Linked DNA regions of Homo sapiens. The protein of the gene in region 5 purifies or fractionates together with the protein of the main gene of each other region. This does not show direct contact. Each region holds a gene or a part of one and is shown on either strand. Other genes may lie near its edges. The genes, in order: IARS2, STX12, OAT, TMED7, RER1, OSBPL8 and LETM1.

What was found.
Region 1: the proteins of RER1 (region 5) and IARS2 purify together in Homo sapiens (affinity purification with mass spectrometry; one large-scale study listed by BioGRID and IntAct). This does not show direct contact.
Region 2: the proteins of RER1 (region 5) and STX12 fractionate together in Homo sapiens (co-fractionation; one large-scale study listed by BioGRID). This does not show direct contact.
Region 3: the proteins of RER1 (region 5) and OAT purify together in Homo sapiens (affinity purification with mass spectrometry; one large-scale study listed by BioGRID and IntAct). This does not show direct contact.
Region 4: the proteins of RER1 (region 5) and TMED7 purify together in Homo sapiens (affinity purification with mass spectrometry; one large-scale study listed by BioGRID and IntAct). This does not show direct contact.
Region 6: the proteins of RER1 (region 5) and OSBPL8 purify together in Homo sapiens (affinity purification with mass spectrometry, with the first as the bait; one large-scale study listed by BioGRID). This does not show direct contact.
Region 7: the proteins of RER1 (region 5) and LETM1 purify together in Homo sapiens (affinity purification with mass spectrometry; one large-scale study listed by BioGRID and IntAct). This does not show direct contact.

What each region holds. Positions count from the first base shown.
Region 1 is NC_000001.11:220,104,132-220,107,631, reverse strand, and holds part of IARS2 (isoleucine--tRNA ligase, mitochondrial precursor), read right to left. Parts: intron 1,742-3,500; coding exon 1,572-1,741; intron 572-1,571; coding exon 481-571; intron 1-480.
Region 2 is NC_000001.11:27,776,219-27,779,718, reverse strand, and holds part of STX12 (syntaxin-12), read right to left. Parts: intron 1-3,500. UniProt on the Homo sapiens protein: SNARE promoting fusion of transport vesicles with target membranes. Together with SNARE STX6, promotes movement of vesicles from endosomes to the cell membrane, and may therefore function in the endocytic recycling pathway.
Region 3 is NC_000010.11:124,408,924-124,412,423, forward strand, and holds part of OAT (ornithine aminotransferase, mitochondrial isoform 1 precursor), read right to left. Parts: intron 3,278-3,500; 5' UTR 3,249-3,277; coding exon 3,050-3,248; intron 43-3,049; coding exon 1-42. UniProt on the Homo sapiens protein: Catalyzes the reversible interconversion of L-ornithine and 2-oxoglutarate to L-glutamate semialdehyde and L-glutamate.
Region 4 is NC_000005.10:115,616,037-115,619,536, reverse strand, and holds part of TMED7 (transmembrane emp24 domain-containing protein 7 precursor), read left to right. Parts: intron 1-337; exon of another isoform or gene 338-398; intron 399-3,091; coding exon 3,092-3,328; 3' UTR 3,329-3,500. Other genes in the region: TMED7-TICAM2 (TRAM adaptor with GOLD domain isoform 1 precursor), read left to right, coding at 3,092-3,219. UniProt on the Homo sapiens protein: Potential role in vesicular protein trafficking, mainly in the early secretory pathway. Appears to play a role in the biosynthesis of secreted cargo including processing and post-translational modifications.
Region 5 is NC_000001.11:2,398,341-2,401,840, reverse strand, and holds part of RER1 (protein RER1), read right to left. Parts: intron 2,427-3,500; coding exon 2,327-2,426; intron 985-2,326; coding exon 906-984; intron 1-905. UniProt on the Homo sapiens protein: Involved in the retrieval of endoplasmic reticulum membrane proteins from the early Golgi compartment.
Region 6 is NC_000012.12:76,353,772-76,357,271, forward strand, and holds part of OSBPL8 (oxysterol-binding protein-related protein 8), read right to left. Parts: intron 2,958-3,500; coding exon 2,855-2,957; intron 2,251-2,854; coding exon 2,118-2,250; 3' UTR 1-2,117. UniProt on the Homo sapiens protein: Lipid transporter involved in lipid countertransport between the endoplasmic reticulum and the plasma membrane: specifically exchanges phosphatidylserine with phosphatidylinositol 4-phosphate (PI4P), delivering phosphatidylserine to the plasma membrane in exchange for PI4P, which is degraded by the SAC1/SACM1L phosphatase in the endoplasmic reticulum.
Region 7 is NC_000004.12:1,821,657-1,825,156, forward strand, and holds part of LETM1 (mitochondrial proton/calcium exchanger protein precursor), read right to left. Parts: intron 2,120-3,500; coding exon 1,988-2,119; intron 1,476-1,987; coding exon 1,332-1,475; intron 657-1,331; coding exon 525-656; intron 1-524. UniProt on the Homo sapiens protein: Plays an important role in maintenance of mitochondrial morphology and in mediating either calcium or potassium/proton antiport. Mediates proton-dependent calcium efflux from mitochondrion.

The DNA.
Region 1 (3,500 bases), about 220 Mb from region 5:
AATAGCCTTAGTCTTAGTGTGGGCAAAGAAAGGTTTTCATAGCACTTGGTCTCTGAATCTGTAAAGGAAGACAGAAAGACAATTCAAGGCTGGAGGATTCCCAAGATTCTAATACATAAATCATGCCATATAGGTCAGTTATTTACAAGGGTTAAAAAGTGAGTAGGGAATGTGTAATTTACAGTCAACATCCAGCCCTGATCTTGATTGTATCCTTCCACAAAAGTAATACTGCTGATTATTATCTCCATAGCCCTAAAATAACTTCACTCCCTGTTGACTGCCCTGACTTGCTTAAATAAAGCAGCTTCAAAGCAAAAGATGAAAAAGTCCCAAACTCCATTTTAAAACATATGGCAAAACAAGACATAATTTATTTTTTTGTTTCTGTTAAAGTATAAGGAGGGAAAATAGGTAGCAAAGGTTACTGCTACCTACTTTTCAGAAAACATGTATGATATCAACAGATATGATGCTCACCCACATCAGTTCCCTCTTCAAGGACAGCCTTGTTTTGAAGTTCAGGACCTGCAACATCTGTGAAAACTCCATCTTCGTCCACTAGACAATCCTATAAAGTATCATTTTGAACAATTAAAATATCAAGACATTTTCTCTTATGACAATATCTGGCAAAACAATATATATAAAAACATCTCAGTATAGCCTGGTCTTTTTCTACATTGAAATTCTAGGTACTTGGCCGGGCGCGGCACTCAGGCCTATAATCCCAGCACTTTGGGAGGTCGAGGTGGGCAGATCACTTGAGGTCAGGAATTTGAGACTAGCCTGGCCAACATGGTGAAACCCACTTCCACTAAAAATACAAAAATTAGCCAGGCATGGTGGTGTGCACCTGTAGTCCCAGCTACTCGGGAGGCTGAGGCAGGAGAATCGCTTGAACCCTGGAGGTAGAGGTTGCAGTGAGCCGAGATCATACCACACCACTGCACTCCAGCCTGGGCGACAGAGCAAGACTCCCTCTCAAAAAAAAAAAAAAAGAAAAGAAAAGAAAAGGAAATAGGAATTTGTGAATTTTATACATTTAAATCACCAAAGCCAAAATGTGTTATTGAAGCATATCCATAAACTTTAATAACAAAAGTAACAAAATATATTAAAACATCTTTGAGTGGTCTCTATTGTTTCCAAATCTATGCCTATATACACAGTTGTTCCCTTTCTGACTCACCTTTTAACTAAACGGAAATACTTGCTAAGTAACTGAAGTATGTAAAGTAAATGTAGAAAGGACTGTTTAGCTAAAACAAACAGGCTTTTTCAGGGAATAAAAGTAATTTGTCTATGTGACTTGATACTAGAAAAAAAGTATTTTAAAAGTGCCCCATGATATATATTCTTCAATTCTAAAGTGCTAATTTTCTATTAATTCTGGGAAATCTTTTTCAATTAGTACGAATTAATGAAACTTTAGAGTACTACACAAACCTGAGCATTTCACAATTATGATGACAAAAGTCATCATTTTTAAAAAATGAAGATGTTGGTTAGAATTTATCATTTCCTTTTATTAAGATGAATAATTAAAAATGATAAAAGAGGAACAGTACCATGGGCAGGTTGTGCTGAGACGCTACACCGTAGTCTTCCATACCATGAGCTGGGGCTGTGTGAACCAATCCCGTTCCTTTTGCCATGGTCACATGATTTGCAGGTAAAAGAGGAGAGGCTTTATCAGGAATTAATGGATGACTGCAAGTACCATTTTCCAAATCTACACCTGTGGGGAAAGAAAACCACTATTAAGAATCATTTTATATGGCAAATCTATCTCCTTAAGCTTAGCAATAGAGTATCAGGTTAAATGTGCAGAATCTAGAACAATACTGGCTAGGCTTAAATTCCAGCTTCCCCTTTAACTTGTTCTGTGACCTTCTATAATCTATAAAATGCAGATAATTATGGTTCCCACCTCAGAGGGTTTCTGTGAGAATAAACAGAGTTAATGTAGTTTAAGTGTTTTGATACTTACTGCATCTACCACTTAATATTCTCCCTCACCACCCTCCCAAAATGATCTCTAAGTAATTGATAAGAAATAATTCATTTTTTTCCGGAAAGAAAACCTACCCCATACAAATTACTTCATTTTTAGCTCTTCAACATTCCTACTACTTTAATAAGTAGTAGCTACGTGACACCAGCTTATTTTGACAGGGATAATATATATACTCCTCCACAATATGGTGACTCAAATAGCAACTCAATAATTATCTGATAGTAAGAATTTGAAACAATTATGCTATCTAGACAAAAGATCTTTAAATTCAACCTTAACACTTTCAAAAATCTTGTGATTTTTAGCTTCTATGATAATGTATAACTTGACAATGAAGTCTTTAATATCCTCTGCATTTATAAAAGAGCAGGGGGCTGGGTGCAGTAGCTCATGTCTGTAATTGCAGCACTTTGGGAGGCTGTGGCAGGAAGATTGCTTGAGCCCAGGAGTTTGAAACAAGCCTGGGCAACACAGTGAGAGAGGGTGTGAAGTAAATTATTATCTTGGTTTTTATTTTTATTACCCTATTGCACCAAAGAGGACCAAATGGTCTTCAAAATTCTTAAGCTCCTTTCCTGCCTCTGACATAAAAATCTTTTTATTTTTGTTAAGGTTGTTTAAACTTCTCATTGGCTTGTATCTGAACTGATTAATTTAGAGGGCTTTCCTATTTAGCTAGGCAGTCTTTCTAGGCAGTTTTTGTATCTTTATTCATGTGATAGATTTTTTAGCAAGAAATTAAAAGATATATCATACCTAAGGATCAAAGATAATTTTAGCCCAGGCATGGTGGCTCACGTCTATAATCCTACCACTTTGGGAGGCAGAGGCAGGAGGAACACTTGAGCTCAGGAGTTCAAGATCTGCCTGGGCAACATAGTGAGACCTCATCTCTTTAAAAATAAAATAAAATAAAATAGAATTTTAGTCCAGGCACAGTGGCTCATGCCCATAATCCCAGCACTTTGGAAGACCAAAGCAGGAGGATCACTTGAGGCCAGGAGTTCAAGACCAGCCTGGGCAATGTAGCAAGACCTCATCTCTACCAAAAAAATTAAAAATTAGTCCAGCATGGTGGCACACACTTGTAGTCCCAGCTACTCAAGAGGCTGAGGCAGGAAGATCACTTGAGCCTAGGATCCAGAGGCTGCAGTGAGCCAAGATGGCACCACTGCACTCCAGCCTGGGCAACAGAGCAAGACCACGTCTCAAAACAAAATGAAGAACAACAACAACAAAAAGCTAATTTTAAACTTCCCTAGACTTCCATAATTATATTTCAAAGCAGTCACTACCTCAAAAGTCCCAAATTATAGCTCACAAAGAATTATTTTGGGCTAGGCACAGTGGCTTACGCCTTTAATCCCAGCACTTTGGCAGGCCAAGGCAGGCAGATCACTTGAGCCCAGGAATTCCAGACCAGTCTGGGCTACACAACAAGAATTCATCTCTGTAAAATATTTTTTCAAAATTAGCCGGG
Region 2 (3,500 bases), about 25 Mb from region 5:
AAAGAGTAAGGAAGAGTAGAAAATATGGCTAATTTGGGTTAAGATCGCAGGGAGTGAAAGCAAGGTGAAATATTAAGATCTGATTCAGGCCAGGCACGGTGGCTCATGCCTGTAATCCCAGCACTTTCGGAGGCCGAGGCAGGTGGATCATCTGAGGTCAGGAGTTCGAGACCAGCCTGGCTAACATGGTGAAACCCTGTCTCTATAAAAATACAAAAATTAGCTGGGCGTGGTGGCAGGTCCTGTAATCCCAGCAACTCGGGAGGCTGAGGCAGGAGAACTGCTTGAACCCAGGAGGTGGATGTTACAGTGAGCCAAGATTGCGCCATGGCACTCCAGCCTGGGCGACAGAGTGAGACTTGGCTCAAAAAAAAACAAAAAAAAACAAAAACAAAAAAAACCATCTGATTCAATAGACAACAGAGAGCCACTTTAGGCTCTTGAGGAAGTGAGCAGTATAATAAAAACAGGACTTTAGACATAGTGCTGATAGCACCATCAGTATAAACTAGAATGGGGCAAGACCATAATCAGAGACACTATGAATATGCTGTTGAAATACAGATGTTGAGCTGATGAATACTTAAGAGGATAGCAAAGAAACATAAAAAATAAGGGGCAAACATGAAAATAACTTTGAAAGTGGAACCCCAAGGATTTCATAATAATCAATTTTAAATGTTCAACTCTTCTTGCTTTGGGAGACTGAGGTGGGAGGATGGTTTGAGGTCAGGAATTCAAGACCAGCCTGGGCAACACAGCGAGACCCCCGTCTCTAAAAAACTTTTACAACTTGCCAGGCGCAGTGGCATATGCCTGTAGTCCTAGCTATTTGGGAGACTCAAGTAAGAGGATCGCTAAAGCCCAAGAGTTTGAGGTTACAGTGGACTACGATTGCACACTGCATTCCAGCCTGGGTGACAGAGTGAGACCTCCACTCTTCTTATTTTGTTAGTAAACAAGATCACATCAATTAGCAACATAAAGAACAGAAATGCTGTTCTTTTTTTTTTTTTTTTCCTGAGATGGAATCTCGCTCTGTTGCCCAGGCTGGAGTGCAGTGGAGCGATCTTGGTCTTGGTTTACTGCAACCTGCACCTCCCCAGTTCAGGCGATTCTCCTACCTCAGCCTCCCGAGCAGCTAGGACTACAGTCGCCTGCCATCACACCCGGCTTACTTTTTGATTTTTAGTAGAGGCAGGGTTTCGCCATGTTGGCCAGGCTGGTCTCGAATGCCTGACCTCAGGTGATCCGATCGCCTCGGCCTCCCAAAGTGCTGGGATTACAGGCGTGAGACACCTCGCCCAGTCAGAAATGCTGTTCTTTAATCCCTTCAGAGTTAACTTTGAGGCTAATAGGTTTTCAGCTATATCTGCCTCAGCAATACTTGCCCAGACACTTTGTTCCACAGTAAGTCAAATATTTTTCTTCTGTACCCAACACATACTGATAATCACCACTTGTACCAGGCAGTCAACCTTAGCTGTACCTGTAACAACCCACGCAGTGAGCTGCCTTATCTCAGGCTGATGTGCTCAGCAATTCCAACCCCACATCTGTGGCTGAACAGTTTAGAAAAAAGAATAACTATGCTCTCAGACTTTTAATGGGTACAAGTCCTTGCAGGGCTGTATGGGTGTGTGGGTAATATATATGTCTGAGAGCTCATATTCTAAGGGTATATTTGGGTGTGCTGGCCTCTTGGAGAGGTTTGGGGATAGGCACTAGCTTGATAACTGAGTAGATGCAACGTCATCCCATCAATTTCAGATTTCCCATTTCTCACCAAACAATTCCAAAGGAAGAATTTCTTTCTTTTTTCTTTTTTTTTTGAGACTGAGTCTCGCTCTGTCATCCAGGCCAGAGTGCAGTGGCGCAATCTCGGCTCACCGCAACCTCCGCCTCCCGGATTCAAGCAATTCTCCTGCCTCAGCCTCCCAAGTAGCTGGGATTACAGGCGTGCACCATCACGCCTGGCTAATTTTTTTGTATTTTTAGTAAAGACAGGGTTTCACCATATTGGCCAGGCTGGTCTCAAACTCCTGACCTTGTGATCCGCCTGCCTCAGCCTCCCAAAGTGCTGGGATTACAGGCGTGAGTCACCGTGTCCGGCCTGGAAGAATCTCAACTCACACTGCCTAGGGTCATAGGATATGGTATGTACTACACAGTACAAGGGGAAAGAGGCAGGAAGAGTTCCAAAATGGTAGAAATGCCTCATTCATTCAAATCAATTTGATACAATTTATTATGCATCAAGATCCTATATAATGTGATCCCTGGTTACCTCTCTGGCCTCTTTTCCTATTCTGCCTCCCTTTTCTAACGGTACTCCAGCCAAACTAGCCTCCTTGCTCTTCTTTGAACACATCAAAGTCCTTGCTCTTGCCCTCTACCTAGAATGCCTTTCCCAGCTACTCACACAGCTCTTGCTCATTTCATTCACATGTCTACTCACTCAAATGTCAGCTCCTCAGAGATGCCTTCCTTGATCAACTAAAATAATGCACCCACCCTCCCTCTTCCCTGACTCTCTACCCACTTACCCTGCTTTTTCTTCATAGCATTTATTATTACTTGACATTATTTATATGTGTATGTACGTATGTGTGTATACATACTCCCCCCGCACACAGAAACACACATATACACACAATCAGGGGAGGGATTTTATCTCTTGTTCTGCTTCACCCCAGCACACAGCAGGTGCTCCAGGAATATTTGTTGCATAGTGGATCAATGAATCTTTCATATGTTTGGGACTGAGATAAGTACTGGAAATATAAAGATGAATAAGTCATGTCCCTTGACTCAAAGGAGCTAACAATCTGGCAGAGGAGATGAACACACCACGAGAAGAGAAAGCACCACGGCTTCAGGTATTTCCCCCACAGAGTGTCCTCTGGAGAGTGAAAAAACAAGTTATTTGCATACTTGTAAACCTGAAGTGTTAACTGCTATAGCACTGTTATTGATTTATTTATTTTTAATTTATTTATTTAGAGACAAAGTATTGATCTGCCACCCAGGCTGCAGTACAGTGGCATAATCACAGCTCACTGCAGCCTCCAACTCCTGGGCTCAAGAGATTCTCCAGCCTCAGCCTCCTGAGTAGCTAGGACTACAGGCACATGCTACCATGTCTGGCTAATTTTTAACTTTTTTTTTGTAGAGATGGGGTCTCACTATGTTGTCCAGGCTAGTGTCAAACTCCTGGCCTCAAGTAATCCTCCCTCTTTGGCCTCCTAAAGTGCTGGGATTACAGGTGTGAGCCACTGAGCACAGCCCAGAACTGTAATATTAATAAAAAGTAATAAAAAGACAAATTGCTGGTCATAAGAGACCTAGTTTCAAATTCAGATATTGTCATTTGTTAGCAGGGCAACTATTTAACCTTTCTTAGTTTGTTTCCTAATACATAACATGGAAATGATACTGGTGCTTCAGAGTTGTTATAAAATAAGATAATGTATGTAAAGCACTTTTCATACTGCCTGGAA
Region 3 (3,500 bases), on a different chromosome or scaffold from region 5:
AGTCAAAATATTTTCTGCCTTCTACATCCCATAAGTAAATACCTAAAATACATAAGAAAGGAAAATAATTTTAGACAATTACTATACGGCATAAAGTCCAAAAATTAAGAGTGCTAGCAAGCCCTCTGAATGCCTATATATGAACCTCTATTTAATACATATTTGTAGTTAAAGCTTGTTTTAGCTCAGGCATAATAAACTTTGGTTTGTAAGGAATTACTAAGAATTGTATTTTATCTGCCCAGCTTCAAAACACACATTTAACAAAAATAACACAAAAAGGTTATAAACTCTGGAGTAAAACCTTTACCTAATTCTAAGATTTAGGATCCAAAATTAGAATTTAAAAGCAGAAGTTAGGCAGGGAGCCGTGGCTCACGCCTGTAATCCTAGCACTTTGGGAGACCAAGGCAGGGATTGCTTGAGCCCAGGAGTTCCAGATCAGCCTGGACAACACGGCAAAATCCCTGACGCTACAGAAAAATGCTGGGCATGGTAGTGCGCGCGTATGGTCCCGTTACAGAGGCTGAGGTGGGAGGATTGCTTGAGCCTGGGAGGTAGAGGATGCAGTGAGTTGAGATTGTGCCACTGCACTCCAGCCTGGGCACCAGAGCAAAATCCTGCCTATAAAAAAAAAAAATAAAATAAATAAAATTTAAAAATAAAAAAGCAGAAGTTACACATAACAGACAAAAATCATGAGAAGTAGACTGTAATAACCCTTAGGATGGAAAAAAAATATTTGTAAATCATGTGTCTGATAAGGATCTAATATCCAGAATTCTTACAACTCAATTTCAAAAGGACAAACAACCCAATTTAAAAAATGGGGAAAGACTTGAATAGCTATTTCTTCAAAGAAGATATACAAATGGCAAGAAACACATGAAAAGATGTTCAACATCACTAATCATTAGGAAAATGCAAGTTAAAACCACAATGAGATACCATCTCATACTCCCTGGGATGGTTATAATTAAAAAAACAACTTTTGACAAGGATCTGAAGAAATTGGCACTCTCATACATTGCTAGTGGGAAAGTAAAAACAAGGTTGCCATGTCATGTAATATGAAACAGATTTTCAATAGTTCAAAAGAAGATATGTCTACAGTACTGGTACCAAATAAAATACAAGCAAATGACCAAAATGTGTGATACTCTTATATTGTCATTTTCTGGTACAAAGCTAAGTAATAAACTTTGGTTTTATTTGGTTAAGGCTGTTATTTATTCCAAATTGTAGATTAAATCACCATTTGGCAACTACCACCGTAATCATTTATTCAGGCAAGAATCATTAGTGGATGCTGAAATTGTGAGTAAAAGTTCATGAGTAACTGGATATTTACAGAGTTTTACACTCTGTCCCCACAAGATACTTAATACAAAGGGAAAGAAGACCAAGACAACCAAGGATTGAGGAACTGTTCTGGGTTAAAGAAGACTAAACATGACAACTGAATGCAACTCATCGGAGGTTTTTCTTTTGTTATAAAAGAGAACAAATGACATCTGGATTAGGTCTCTAGACTAATGGTGCTGTACCAGTGTTAAGTTCTTGATTTTTACAATTACTCTATGGTTATAAAAGAGAAAGTCAGCTGGGCACAGTAGCTCACACCTGCAATCCCAGCACTGTGGGAGGCTGAGTGGTAGGATCACTTGAGACCAGGAGTTCAAGATCACCCTGGGCAACATAGCAAAATCTAATCTCTACAAAAAATAAGCCAGGCATGGTAAGGCACACCTGTAGTCCCAGCTACTTGGGAAGCTGAGGTGGGAAAATCACCTGAAGCCGGGAGTTCCAGGCTGCAGTGAGCCATGATCACACCACTGAACTCCAGCCTGGGCAACAGAATGAGACCCTATCTCAAAAAGTCATTGCGTTTTTGGAAAGACACACTAAGTATTTATGGGTAAAGAGATGTCATGTGGCGGGGCGCGGTGGCTCACGCCTGTAATCCAGCACTTTGGGAGGCTGAGGTGGGTGGATCACCTGAGGTCAGGAGTTCGAGACCAGCCCGGCCAACATGATGAAACCCTGTCTCTACTAAAAATACAAAAATTAGCTGGACGTGGTGGCGTGGGCCTGTAGTCCCAGCTCCTCGGGAGGCTGAGGCAAGAGAATCACTTGAAACCGAGAGGTAGAGGTTGCAGTGAGCCGAGATCCCACCATTGCACTCCAGCCTGGGTGACAAAGCGACATTCCGTCTCAAAAAAAAAAAAAAAAAAAAAAAAAGAAGAAGAGATGTCATGTCTGCAACTTCCTCTCAAAACAGTTCAGAAAACAATGTAGAATATGCAGGCGGCGGGGGGAGAAGAGAAGGGAGTGAACACACTAAGACCAAAGCAGCAAAAAGTTAGCACTTGGAAAATCTGGGAGAAGTATAAAAGGAAAATGTCAGTACTATTTGTTACAACTTTTCTTAAGTCTAAAACTATGCCAAAATAAAAGTTAAAAGAAAAAAATGACAGCAATATGATAGTACTTTCCTTATTTCTCTTGCATTCCCTCTTGGTAAGGTCTACATGACAAAGACAATGGTTCCTCTTTGAAGCCTCCATAGCACCTAACACAGCAGCACTAGACACTCAATAAATGAATTAACTGGCCAGGCGTGGTGGCTCACACCTGTAATCCCAGCACTTTGGGAGGCCAAGGTGGGAGGATCACAAAGTCAGGAGTCTGAGACCAGCCTGGCCAACATGGTGAAACCCCATCTCTACTAAAAATACAAAAATTAGCTGGGTGTGGTGGCGCACGCCTGTAGTCCCAGCTACTCAGGAGGCTGAGGCAGAAGAATCGCTTGAACCTGGGAGGCAGAGGTTGCAGTGAGCTGGGATTGTGCCACTGTACTCCAGCCTGGGTGACAGAGTGAGACTCCGTCTCAAAAAAAAAAAAAAAAAAAGAAGAAGAAGAATTAACCATGTCTGCAATATACACATTAAACACATCTAGAAAAATGTATATTGTGAAAATATGGAAGCAATTTTTTTTTATAAAAGGTTTCAAGAAAAGGGAAAAGACGGATTAATTTGAAACGTACCTTTTCCTCTCTCCAGGGCTACAGGTAAAGGATGGTAGTTGTGTGCACCATACTTATATTCCCTTTCAAAAATGTCATCAGAGGTTGGAGGGCCTTGGACTGTTTTTTTAGTTGCAACAGATGTAGCAGAAGCCACTGAAGAATGAACTCCGCGACTAAGTACAGCAAACCTCTGCAAATGTGCTAGTTTGGAAAACATTGTGTCCTTCAAGTAGAAAAACCACAGATCTGTCCAAAGAAAAGAGAATGCATTAAGAGTGAGAATCCTTGGCTTATGCCTATAATCTCAGCACTTTGGGAGGCTGAGGTCAAAGGATCACGTGAGCCCAGGAGTTTGAGACCAGCCTGGGCAACAGAGCAAGACTCCATCACTAAAAAAAATTGAAAAATTAGCTGGGTGTAGTGGTATGCATCTGCAGTCCCAGCTACTCAGGAGACTGAGGTGGGAGGA
Region 4 (3,500 bases), on a different chromosome or scaffold from region 5:
GGTCCCAAACATTTTGGATAAGGGATACTCAACCTGTATGGGCTTAGATCGTATCTAAAAGTTACTCAATTAGGCATGAAAAAGAATTATTTACCACTTATTCGTTAACATCTTAAACTGGTATTTTAGTGTTCCCAGGTTCTATTTAGTCTCTTGGCCAAAGTCATGGTGAAAGAAACAGCTTTAAGAATGTGTAAAAGCCTTAATTCATAAACCTGTTGTTAGAATTAGCAAGATATATTCAAATACTCTTAATTTTAGAAATGTTCTCTTTATTTTAAGGTCTTGTGTGAAGGACACCTTGCTTTGTAAAATGATATTTCTTTGGGGCCATTACCTTAACCTGTATCCATTCCTTCATGAATTTTAACTTGTATAAGGTGGCTTGTTCTAAAAACCTAAGTGGGTAAATATAAGAAATGAATGGTAATAAAGCAGTTAGTATCATACCCGTCTTTATCCATGCTACATTTTTTATTTTTCTCAGTCTTATTTTTCTACTTTCAAAAAGATAATGTATCATATAATAGGGATCATTATAAAGCAACTTTTCATACTTTAAAATTGAAAATTACCAGCTAGTAAGTTCAGAACAAAATTACCAGCTAGTAAGTTCAGAACAAAATTACCAGCTAGTAATGCAGAATAAATGATAAAAGTTTTACTCTCACCATTTTTTACCTGTTGATAAAATGATGGATTTAGAGTAGGCAATGATCAGCAGTCACTACTAAAACCATTAAGTAAAAGGCTGATGGGGAACTTTATACTGAGTGGATCAGACTGAATGATCATTCACAAATGGAGAGATAACTAGACATTATGTGCCTTATCATAATATGCAGTAAGAAGTACACAACATTGACTACTAGACGTTCCCACCCAGAACATTGCACCTGAATTCCATCAAGTCTCTAGCTCCAAATGCCAGTTTACAAGAAATACAGAGGATAAAGGAATAACATGGGAATGCAATCAACAAAATCCAGGACGTGGGAAATGCCACAGGATAGGGGTTGATGGCAAGGAAAAAAGGAAAAACAAGGAAGAAAGCCTAAAGATTAATGAACACTTACATCAGCCAAATGATTGTGTTAACCTTACTTGGATTCTTACTTGAAAACCAACTTTGAAACAATAGGGGAAATTTGAACACTATTTCCTGACTTTAAGGAACTGTTTTAGATTATTTCATGTGTTATAATACTATTGGGGTTATGTTTTTAAAAAGTGTTATCTTTTAGAAATAAAGTATAAAAGTATTTGTAGCTGAAGTGATAAAATATCTGAGATTTGCTTTAAAAATAATCGGGGAATGTAGATGAAGCAAGATTAGCCATGTGTTAATCTTTGTTGACATGGTGGGGGTTCATTGTACTTTTCTCAATACTTTTGAATATATATGGAAGTTTTCACTGTAAAAGTTTTTTAAAAATCACATCTCAGGCCAGGCGTGGTGGCTTACGCCTGTAATCCCAGCACTTTGGGAGGCCGAGGCGGGCGGATCATGAGGTCAGTAGTTAGAGACCAGCCTGACCAACATGGTAAAACCCTGTTTCTACTAAAAATACAAAAATTAGCTGGATGTGGTGGAGTGCACCTGTAATCCCAGCTACTCAGGAGGCTGAGGCAGGAGAATCACTTGAACCTAGGAGGTGGAAGTTGCAGTGAGCCAAGATTGCGCCATTGCACTCCAGCCTGGGTGACAGAGCGAGACTCCATCTCAAAAAAAGTCACATCTCAAAAGTTGTAGAATGCATGTAATTTAATTTCTGTGATTTTCTCTAATCCAGTAGTTCTTAACCCATACCCCATGGACAGGCTTGAAGGAGTTCCTAAATATTCTGCATTTGGGTCAACTCCTTGCCTTTATGTGTACTTTCCAGGTGAAGAATCCTTGGGCAATATGCCATTTTGAGAATATAGAGAAAGCAAATCCTAGAAGCACATCTCTCTCTAGCTCCTCATCACAAATTAGGAATCATTTTAGCACAGTTTTGCAAATTTTTCATTCCTAGGGGCCTGAACAAAGCAAGGACAACAAAAATATTTGACTCTTCTAATAGGTTAATGCAGTTTGTTGGCCTCATAATTTCTTACATTTTTTAAAAGCACTTTTAATAGAATATTTTAATAATTATTCCTTTCATACTTACTTTGGCAGAACTTCATTAAACATTATTTTCTAATTTCTATATTCCTTAACTAAAATTAAAACAAACTTAGATTTGTTTTTAAAACTCTTAATACAGGCTTGTTGCATAAAATAATAATAAAACATATATTTTACCACTAGGATTAAGTTTGCAGCAGTAGAAAAATATTAAACCATGGTATACAAAAAAACTAGTCATTTAACCTTTCTCAAAACAGATGGTATAATAAATGTATAAAAAGGCAAGCTGTTATCAGCTAAAGGCTCACAAATTGATTACACAGTGAAACTGAAACTTGCATCCTGTTGGGAACATACATATTGGTTTAGTTGACTGGCATGAGGGAAAAGGCTGATTTAACAAATAGATAAATGTAAAAAAACAAAGTCATTCCTATTCTGATAGATCCCTTTCAGATTTAAAAGTTACTAACGATTTTGATGTTGTGGCTGTTTTAAACATAGTTCAAAGAACTTTGACTAATTCAGCTTTTTTTTGTACTGTGCTTTGTTTATTTTTATAGATATTTGGGCTTTGACTTATATTCTCATTGGTGAGCTCACTGCCATTTTCTTCCTAATTCTTCTTTAAAGAACTTGGGCTGGAAATTCTGTAGTCACCAACCTTAGCTGATAAGTATTTCTGCTATTGTTAGCTTAGTGTTCCATCTGCCCCCTTACTGATGCCATGGCTGTGACATCTCAGTTGGGGAAAACAGCTGCTTCATGAGATCTCTAGCCTTAACAGTTGTCCCAGTGAAAATGAGCAGGGGGGTTTCATTGCAAAGACAACTGGCATAAATGTATGAATGAATGCCAGATTAGTAGCATGTTAGTCAAAAGAGGAATTGAGATCAAATTGAAAGAAAAGCTGAATATGATAGATGAAGTCTACAGAAAGTATCACACATACTGACTGAAAATATTTCTCTGCAGATGGAATCTGCCTGTGTTTCAATTCACGAAGCTCTGAAGTCTGTCATCGATTATCAGACTCATTTCCGTTTAAGAGAAGCTCAAGGCCGAAGCCGAGCAGAGGATCTAAATACAAGAGTGGCCTATTGGTCAGTAGGAGAAGCCCTCATTCTTCTGGTGGTTAGCATAGGGCAGGTATTTCTTTTGAAAAGCTTTTTCTCAGATAAAAGAACCACCACAACTCGTGTTGGATCATAACTACGTTTTGAGAATTGATGCACCATTGCCACTGTAATATTGCTGTCCTCTAATTAATTTTAGGTACTGAAGAACTTAATATTGGCAACATTTTTAAATCCTTACTCATACACTTGTTGGGAGGGATGTACAATGCATATTCCCAAACTGTGGAAAGGACACCTTTTTTTAT
Region 5 (3,500 bases):
TGGCATGGCCACCAGTGCTCCCTCCCGTCCCAGCACATGGCCAACAGATGCCACGGCCCTGGAGGCTCAGCTCTCCCTTCCTAGTCCAAGCTTCTGGTGGCTTCCAGGGCCCCTGATCTTTCTGTACCACACTCCATCTGCGGCTGCAAAGTCAAGGCGTGGAGCCCCACGAGCTCAGCAGGCTCCTTCAGTTTACTGATCTAACAGACTTGGGTTCCTCCTGTGCTCCCAGAGTGGGGTATGAGGGACAAGACAAACGGATGCACACGCTCCCGTCCCTCTGACGGCTGCACCACCCACCTCTGCCTACCCGTGCAGACACGGACACCTCGGCTCAAACCCCTCTCAAAAATGACTCCAGGAGAAGGCTAGTCCCTCTGCCAGCCAAAAGGAGCCACAAGGCTGGGGATGGGAGAGAGGAAGGAGGAAGGAGGGAGGAGGAGGGAGGAGGAGGGAGGAGGAGGGAGGAAGGAGGGAGGAGGAGGGAGGAAGGAGGGAGAAGGAGGGAGGAGGAGGCAGGAAGGAGGGAGGAGGCGGCAGGAAGGAGGGAGGAAGGAGGAGGGAGGAGGGAGGGTGGAGGAGGGAGGAAGGAGGGAGGAAGGAGGGAGGAAGGGAGGAGGAGGGAGGAGGAGGGAGGACAGAGGGCCTGCCCTCCCCAGGCCACAACCACAGAAGCCGGTGCGCACTCCATCCCAGACTCAACCTCCAGGGCACTGGTGCTGACTTGAAACCAAGAGAATGCGGCAAGGTAGTGAGTGGCCTTCTACAGAGAGCCCCTGCGATTCCCCGTGCCCAGCCCAGCACAGCAGTCATCTTTCAGGTGACTTGAACAAAAATCAGTGTAGTCTCAGTCTCAGCCACCCTTGAGCACAATTCTCTTCAAATACCGTGAAGAATTAGCTCACCAAAATTTAAACTCTGGGAGCCTTCGAATGAAGGGGCGGAATTCCTCGTTCTGTTTGGTGGGTAGCGAAGGACCGTCATCTGTAAGGCAGAGCAACCATCAGGGAGGGCACCTCTTTTCATTCCCATCACAGTTCTACCTTTTCCCCTCAAGGCTTTGGACTAGCAGGCCTCACAAATCTAAACCGAGATTCATGTCATTTAACCAGAGAAAACGAGAAAACGGGGGTCTGTGGTCAACTGACACATCCAATTCACTGCTTTCAGAAGGTGCTATCAGAATGTTTTTAGACTTCCACACGTTTTCAATGCACGAAGAATTCAACCACATATAAACATCCAGGAACACGTCAGCTGCACCACGTAAAGGCACAGAAGAAAACAAAGGCAAATTAACATAAAAAGCAAGCGGCAGAGAACAGGGCGGGGCCGAGGATGCGCTGACCGTGGAACCCGGGCGCCAGGCCTGTCCCACCAGCAGCTGTGCCAAGCCCACTCTCACCCCGCCTCCCCCACTGGGATGGGTGCCGCTCCCCATTTACAGATGGGAAAACTGAGGCCTACAGGAAAGGGGCTCTTTGTTATTTTCTAGTCTCCTCCAAACAGCAACAACAGAGAGGGGCTGTGTTCCCAGCAATCTTTTCATCACATATCCTACACAGAAGACTCACAGGCTTCTGGCCACACAGTGAGAGCATACCCTACTCCCTGACAGCAGGTTCCCCCAGAACGAGGAGGGTCCTGGCAGGGAGCTGCGTGTGGGTTTTCCCTCAATGGCCACCACGTCCTGGAATGCAGTTGTTTGTTCCTCGCCTGGGGCTGGCCAGTCAGGCATGAACTCAGGGCCCCTACCTGGCCCAGGCAGGCCCAGGAGCTGCGTAAGTCTTCCAATAGTGGAGCACGAAGCACCAGGAACACTTCAGCTCACAGCTCCTCAGAAACCAGAGAAGGCCGCCCAAAGCCTGACCCGACCCGATGCTGGCATTAGAGTCCCGGCGGTCTCTGTGCACCACAGTGAGCTGCCTGTGGAACCCTCTGGCTACGGGAAAAGGTAACCTCGTCATGGCTGCCTCCGCTGATTCTGAGAGGGACCACTGACTGGGGTGGGACGGGGGCTGGAGTCGGACTGTCCACCTCAGACCCCTACTGTCTGTGGTGCCATGTGACCTCGAACACGTTACCTAACCCTGTATGCCTCAGTTTCCTCATCTGCAAAGTGGGAAAACAGAATGAACACCCACTTCGTGGCTGTCAGGAGGGTTTGAAGAGTCATTCTACAAACATATCCTGATCACCCAACATTACAAGTACATTTCAACCCCAAGAGAAGAGTCTCGGGTGTTTCCAGAGAACACTGGGCAATCCCATCAGAAAAGAAAGGCCCAACCTGCCCACACAGCCCAGTGCACAGCCGCTACCCTACCTGAGTCTTCCATTAAGGAAGGATCCACTTTGGGAGAAAGAAAAGCTATGAAAAGATTTAGATGGTAGATCCCCAAGGCATAGGTCACAATGTACCAACCCTGAAAGAGAAGGAAAGAGAGTCAGTGGTGCACTCTGACCGTCCATCAGCCTGAGCCAGTTCACGTTTGCACTCCGGTTCACTCTCAACTTTGTTAACTGATCTAACTTTGTTTTAACACAAAACTTACTCATAGCAAGGACAAGGAAATACAGTGAAATCCCATGGTAACAATTTATCTCAAATTATACTCTGTGGGAACAGAGACAAAGCGGACAAGCAAGGGCCCAAATGAGCAAAGCTCTTCAAGGGTCCAGTTAGACACATGTGATCCCTGAAGCCACAGACGCCCCACAAGGAGCGCAGCAGAAAAGGAGGCTTTTCTCAAGAAGCACATGCTCAAGCTACACCACAGGCTCGGGTGGCCCGGGCACCTGAGCGATGCTGGCCCAGAGCCCCACCCAGGAGCAGCTTCATCAGAAACAGAAGACAGACTCTCAACTGTGACTGGAGGCGTGCTGGCTGATGTTCCTCCAACAGACAATTCACATTGCCAAAAACACTCTGCCAGGAGGGTTAAACCTTTGCCCAGAAGAAATCCACAACTGGGAAATCCAGAAAAGTGTGCTTATGCCAAGCCTTCCTCAAGAGATGAAAAGTGGGGAGAATTTTGGCAAGATGCCTGAGTGCAGCACACTTATTTGCAACTAATTCATTTTTTAAAATGATTAAGCATATCCCGTTAAAAGCCAGAACCGCATTCTCAATTTCAAAAGCCTTAAATTTCTGTCGGGTGTGGTGGCTCACGCCTGCAATCCCAGCACTTTGGGAGGCCAAGGCGGGTGGATCACCTGAGGTCAGGAGTTCAAGACCAGCCTGGCCAACATGGTGAAACCTCGTCTCTACTAAAAATACAAAAATTAGCCAGGCATGGTGGCACATGCCTGTGATCCCAGCTGCTCGGGAAGCTGAAGTAAGAGAATCACTTGAACCCAGGAGGTGGAGGTTGCAGTGAGCCAAGATCAGGCCACTGCACTCCAGCCTGGGCGACAGAGTGAGACCCCATCTCAAAACAATAAATAAAAATATAAATGCTTTAACTTTCTTATACAAACAAGAAGTCTTTCTGCCTAAA
Region 6 (3,500 bases), on a different chromosome or scaffold from region 5:
AGTCATGAATAACTCTGCTCTTTCTTAAGAAATAGTTTTTGACTCTTTGGGTAAGAACCCATAACATTTGCTCTAAAAAGAAATTTTAAAAATAAAGAACACAACTACCTATTTAGTCTTAGAAGATACCCATACAAATAAAATATTATTTGGACCAAATGAAAACAACATACACGTGGATAAGACCAAAGTCCTAAGAGGTGGGTCACCAGTACAAAATGTTAACAAGGTTTACTGATGAAATGATTTTTGTGATAAGCCAATCAATTTGTATGTAATTAACTAATTTAAACCATAAAAAAGATCAAATTGTACAATATTTACAGAATATCATATATCAATGAATAGGCAGAGTGTAACAGAATGTGAATACAAAAATTATATTGACAAATATAAAATATAACCAAAAACCCATTTGTTCTAATATCATGAAAATACTGGGTATAGGTAGATCTTATTTAAGCTTTTATCAATTTAAAACATCATTTCACATGTACATATGGAATACAGCATTATTTTGCCAAGAAAACATGGGAAATGGTTCTTCACAGAAACCTAAGGATACTTAAGATAGCTATATTGGTTAGGGAAAAAAGCAGGCTCTTTTTATCATTTTGATTCTCATAATTTACCAATCAATGTATTTATTTACCAATCTTGTATTTATCATGGCATAAACGATTATAATTTTACTATTTCACAGCCTCCTCCTACTGAAAGGCAAATGTGGTCAGGGCAATTATTCTCTCTGACCTTCATTTTCATTAAAAAAACATTTCAAAATCTATGCTTTCAGGATTCTAAGACATATTTTAGAACAACATATTCCTAAACTGAACTACCTTGGCAAAAATTGCTTTCAAGGAATATAAATATTTACGTAAAAACACAAAATCAAAATATTAAACTGAAGAAACAAACAAAAAAATTTGCCTTAGCCTGAACAATAGGAATCTTAAAGAATTGTGGTTTTGCCACAGAAAGAAGTTACTAAGAAGAGAGGAGGATAATAAAAAAATTAAACTTCAGAACTTGATACTCTTCGTAGATACTCAACTTATTACACGTTTTACAGAAACCAATTTTAATGCACACATAAAGGCCACCACAAAGTGTCTTTTCTTATTGCCTCTTTTTGGCTTTTGAAGTAAAATACTGGTTATATTTTTTTATATTCTACTTATTCACTGAACACACTGGAGTCTAAAGCTAAAATAAGTTTTCATAATGAAAAAACATAAATTATCAGCACTTCAAATGCTCTATAAACATCTCTAGAATTTGGCCTATGTTATGAACCAGCTGACTTAAGAAAAACAAAAATAAGACAAAAGGACAGCAATCAATTTTGACCACACTTTTTTCAGCAAGTGCTTAAGGTGGTATTATAATCAATCCAATTAATTGCACACCAGTGTTTTTATACTGATATACACGTAAGTATATATATTTACCTGCATCTACAAATATTAAATTCTAGGGGTTAAAAAAAACTTATGTAAACTTTTAAAAAAGCAATTTGCCATTTATCTCTCTCGATGTATTCATTTTGACCATTCATACTTTTTCTTTCTTTCTAAGAAGATAATTGAGCTGAGTGCTTTGCAAATGATTTTAACAGTAGTGTATTGAATTAATTATGTCTATTATTCCATCATTTCTCAATCTGTAATTCCTTACTGATAAAACTTTTGTGCCTGTTTTATGAAGAAAATAGATTACATATATTTATAAGATTGATAGCATTTTTTGTTATGAACAATGTTAACATTATATCTCAGAACATACTATAGAATACAAAGACTACTGTCAGGTAGGAGTACATAAGAGACAATTGTGTATACATGTGGGTTTATTATACTCATATGTAGACACATTCTCACAAAAGCTAGAAATGTCCTGGCACTTAACACATAGCTCACTTTAATAATCAAATAGGATAGCTCTTGTTTCAGTGTGAAGATAAAAGATACGAAAAGTCAATACCTCTACATTTATCTCCTAGGTTTTTTTGTTTTCGGAATATTGTGATTTTTAATAAAGACCAAACCAACTTGAACACTGGTCCCAGGCCAAATCAGATCTTTCTAGTTCACTGATTCAATGGTAGAGAACTTCTACTTGAACATGAAGTTTATTATGACTTGAAGCAAAATCAGGAGGAAAATGATGAAGTAGTCTTTTTGTTGCAGAAAATAATCCGTGGCCGGTGTGCTTGAAACTAAATGATTTCGAAGAGCCATAATATTTCTATAAAAATAAGCAACAACAAATTTTGTAATGATTTGCCAGAAATGTTGGCATAGAGCCCACAATTTGATATTAAACAGTCACAGAGCATTTAATGTTAATAATTTTTAGTTGCTGGGTCATGGGGTGGTATGTAGGGGTGGGGGGGGGCGGGGTCTGGGACTGCAAAGAGGAATACTTAAGGGCTCAGGGAGTAAATATTTACCCAATGTTATGGATGTATTTCAATATTTCAACTGATGCATTCCAATGAAATAACAGCCATGCACAGAGGGGACTATAGAGGCCTTTGTTAACTGACTTTCTCAGAAACAATCCCACCTCCACATGCAACCCAGCTACATTCCTAGCATGCTATAGGAGTAAAATAAAGTGATTCCAATTCTACCCTTACAGAGAAAAAACAACCTCTCCTTCCTTCCCAAGTATTTTAGTGCTGGAGGAATTTCGTAAGTGTCAAACATCAGGTGATAGAGGCTAAACATTGTATTTTAGCTTAGCTAAATGTTATAAAAATATGAAGTCTGCATATGATTTCCCATATAACAGGATTCTTAACTACTCCTTGGTCTCAAATGAATAGTCAGTGTCATTATATTATTACCTTTTAATTTCTTCCTGTGTTTGTTTTATAGATTCGATGGAACTCTGAATGTCTCCCAGTTCTATTCCTTTCTTTCTTCTTGTACTTGGTTTTACTGATTGAGCTAAAAAGACATTTAGAATGAAGTTGAAACTATAAAAATAATCTACAGTTCAATTTAATGTGTCTCATGTAATAAAAATTTTCCTGGGCATTTGTTTTTGTAGCCTAGAGATTAGCATAGTAATATGAATACTCTGCACTTTTGAAGTTTCAAACACATCATTGCAATACTAGAACACTACAAATATATTTAAAGTACTACACATTAGTTGAATTTTGGATGGCACCAGTTTTTTTAACTAATTAAAACAGAAATAATTCATTAGAAATACATATTAACTTGAGGAAGGTATTACTCTCTTCTGTTCCTTGCCCATTTGCCTACCTCTGAAGTCAGCTTCTTGAGCCCTTTTTTCCAATTTTTTATTGTGAGTGTTTAGTTACCTAAACTTTAAATCCCTTTCGACACCACTTCTGCAAATTTTTACTGCCAATCAGCAAGCTGTACATGTTTTTCCAAATTCCCTACATATGCATTCCTTCCTTTCCATTTTTGTTCAGATCCTACTTAACCTCTCTGCAAGTGTCAGCTTTCTCATTTTAA
Region 7 (3,500 bases), on a different chromosome or scaffold from region 5:
CAGCCCGCGAGTTCAAGATGGAAGGTACCAGGAGGCGCCCCAGGTAGGCAGCACAGGCGCCTGGAGGCTGCACCTCACAGGCTCGCATGGGGAGTCTGAAGATGCTCCAAGCCCAGATCACCCCACAGGAGGTGACAGCAGGTTGGGCCTGTGGAGGAGGCTCTACCTTGAGGGGCCACATTGGCTTCCACACCCCTTCACTGTCTGGGCAAGCTGGCAAAGGGCCCTGAAACCTGCCGACTGGCATCTCTACCTGCCACACTGTGGGCCAGGGTGCTAAGTTCACGGCAGCGTCAGCTGCTGTGCACCCAGGCACAGTGCGGAGCCCGGCCGGACTCACTCTTTTCCTAACCACCAAGCCTCCTAGGGGCCCAGTGGCCTCATCCTCAACCCCTTGCACCATCTCCTCTCACTGAGGGCTATAGATGCCCCAGCTAACCTGTCCCCATCCCTGCCCCACAACTGTCCACAAAGCCAGGCCATGCCCTCCTCAGCCTCCAGGGCCCCAGAACCTGCCTCATTACCTTCAAGCCCTCCAGCACCGGGGCAGTGTCCTTCAAGGTCTCTGACTGCAGGACTGTGTCAGGCATTTCTGGCTGTGGCTCGGTCCCCGGCCTTTGGGGAGCAGCTACCACACGTTCGGGCTCAAAATCCTTCTGAAAGGCAAGGCGACACCAGCCCAGCGCCCGCCATCACACAGAAGCAGTCTTCTTGCTCCCCGAAGCTCAGAACATATGGCAGAGGCCACACTGGGAGCAGGCCTGCAGGTGACATTGGGCAGCACACCTGCCACAGAAGGTCCCTAGGGAGGCTCCATGCAGCTGCCAGGTCACCTGGGGCCCTCTCCAGAACAGGCTAGAGCACCTTATCCATCTCTGGTCTCCCCAAGACTCCCCCAAGCTGCCCTGTCACTTGCAGAGCAGGAGGCTGAGCCTGTGGGTGGGCACCATGCATGTGACCCAAGAGGACCACAGGGCCCGCGTTGAAGAGGAGCCCAGAGGCTGGGGGAGCCTGCAGCTCCTCTGCCAGCGCCCCTCACAGCAAGTCCCTGAGGAGAGGGTGGGCACTGCCATATGCTAAGCTTGCCCCTCTGAGACGGCTAAGGTATATCTCCCATGAGCACCACTGTGGCCATCGGGGAGTCCCCATGTCAGAGTTGCAGCCCTCACACCCGGGCACCCTGCCTCCCTGACCACTCCAGGAGGAAATAAACATGCAGGACAGAGCTGCAGGGCAAGCATGCGGGAGGCCAAGACTGTGGGCGTGCGGGGGTTTCTAGGGAGGCTGGCTCAGGACAGCCCCACGCGGCACGGAGCAGGACCACCGCTTACCGCCACCTCCGAGCGCTTCTGCAGCTCCTTCTCACGGTGCTCCTGCTGGATGGCCGCCTCCTCCTGCAGCGTGGCCTCCAGCTTGGCCTTGTTGTCCACCTGCTCGCCCTCCACCTCGGCCACTTTCACCTGTGCTTCCTTTGCCTTCAGAAGAGGGTACATCTGTGGGTGAGCCCAGAAGCCACCAGAGGCCCCTGCTGCCCCTCACCTCTGTCCTGTGTCCTGTGTCCCCTGCCCCGTCACCACCTGGGCTTCACACACACAGGACAGAAGGCACTGCCGAGGTGCTGCCCGCAATTGCTGGGAGGCCCCTGGGCCGCCCTCTGCGCTCGCCCGATGACTCCTGACATGTGGGAAGGAGCATAGGCGCTGCTGACACAGCTCCAAGGGCCGCGGCCCAGATCCACAGCAGCCAACACGTGGCCAGGTCGGGACCACTGGCAACTGTGCCACACGGGGGATGGCAGGCAAGGGGCTGGTGAGGAGGGATGGAAGGAAGGGGACAGGTGGCTGGGTGGGGGCACTCGCGAGGGGGTGGGAGGCAGGCTCCTCGCCCATGGTTGAGGAATGAGTGCGCTTGCACACCTCCCCCCACCCCAGAAGAGCGGAGCCACCTATGAAGAGATGAGGTAAAAGGGGTCTCCGACAGCACGTACCACAATCTCTGGGAGGGTCTGCAGTGTGGACTTGAGCTGGTCGGCTGGAGAGAGGGTGTCCGGGAGGTACATGGCCCGGGACAGGATGAGCAGCGATGTGGGGATCTCCTGATGCAGGTGCAGGTCCAGCCACTGCAACCAAGGCCAGGTTCAGCAGATGGGCAGCCCCCCAACCCTGCTGGCCCCACAGCAGGTCCGCCCATCTCATCACCAGAATAGCTCTCAGAGAAGACAGTGTCTCAAGTTCTACAAGGTCTGTTTGTTGCTGTGCTGCGTGACCCGATGACGGCGTTAGTAAACAAAACACCAGAGAGGCTTGGGGGTCAGCAACCCCCACAGCGAGGACCCCAAGGGCCTCAGAACAGGGCACCAACTCTTCACTTAAAAACACCCCAGGGGCCGGGCGCGGTGGCTCACGCCTGTAATCCCAGCACTTTGGGAGGCCGAGGTGGGCGGATCACCTGAGGTCAGAAGTTCGAGACCAGCCTGGCCAACATGGCGATCCCATCTCTACTAAAAATACAAAAATTAGCCAGGTATAGTGGTGTGCACCTGTAGTCCCAGCTACTTGGGTGGCTGAGGCACAAGAATTGCTTGAACCAGGGAGGCGGAGGTTGTTTCAAGCCGAAATCGCGCCACTGCACTCCAGCCTGTGTGACAGAGCAAGACTCTGTCTCAAACAAAGAAACAAGACCAGCCCAGGTCAACATATACGGGCCCGCAGAGGCAGTGTCACTGAGGCCGGTCAGCACTCGGGCCCTTGCAGGCTCTGCACAGGCCAGGTTCCGGGGCTGGCTGCTTGAGTAACACCAAGACAATCTCCAAATGGGCAAGAAAGACCGTGACAATGTTTAGAGACAAACTGAACACGGGGCAAAACATGAGAACAAACCCTAAGAGAAGAAAGGCAACGCTGAGGAGAAGTGGGTAGAGAAAATATGAGAACAAACCCTAAGAGAAGAAAGGCACCACCGAGAGGTGGGTAGAGAAGGAAAAGTGTGAACACATGACACTCGGGCCCCCAATGCGCCACACTCCCCTGGGGGCCGAGGGGCCTGGGCAGGGACAGCACCTGCCCCCCTGCTCAGACACCCCTGTGTGTGTGGCCCATATCCCCACGGAGCTCCAGAAGGCTGGGCAGAGTGCTAGGGAGGTCAGCACCCATGCCAGACACAGAGAAGGCTCTGCTGGGGAATCCGATGGAAGACGCGGCTGTGGAAGGCAGGGGGTGCCACAGGATCACGCCATAAATACTGTCTGTGTCGAGAGGAGAAGTGTGTACACACACCTTCATCTACACTTGCAGGTTGTGTGAAAAACCCGGGAGGAGGATGACTGCCAACAAGGGCATGCCAGTGCCAGGGCACCGGGAGGAAACCGGCTGGAGCCCTGCACCCCTTAACCTTTCCATGTAAGAGTGAGTGGCTGGGGCTGTCACTTTCCGACCTACAAGCCACTCAATTTGATGGCATTGGGAACCAGGCACCAGCACAGGGCGTGGCCAAGAGAAGGG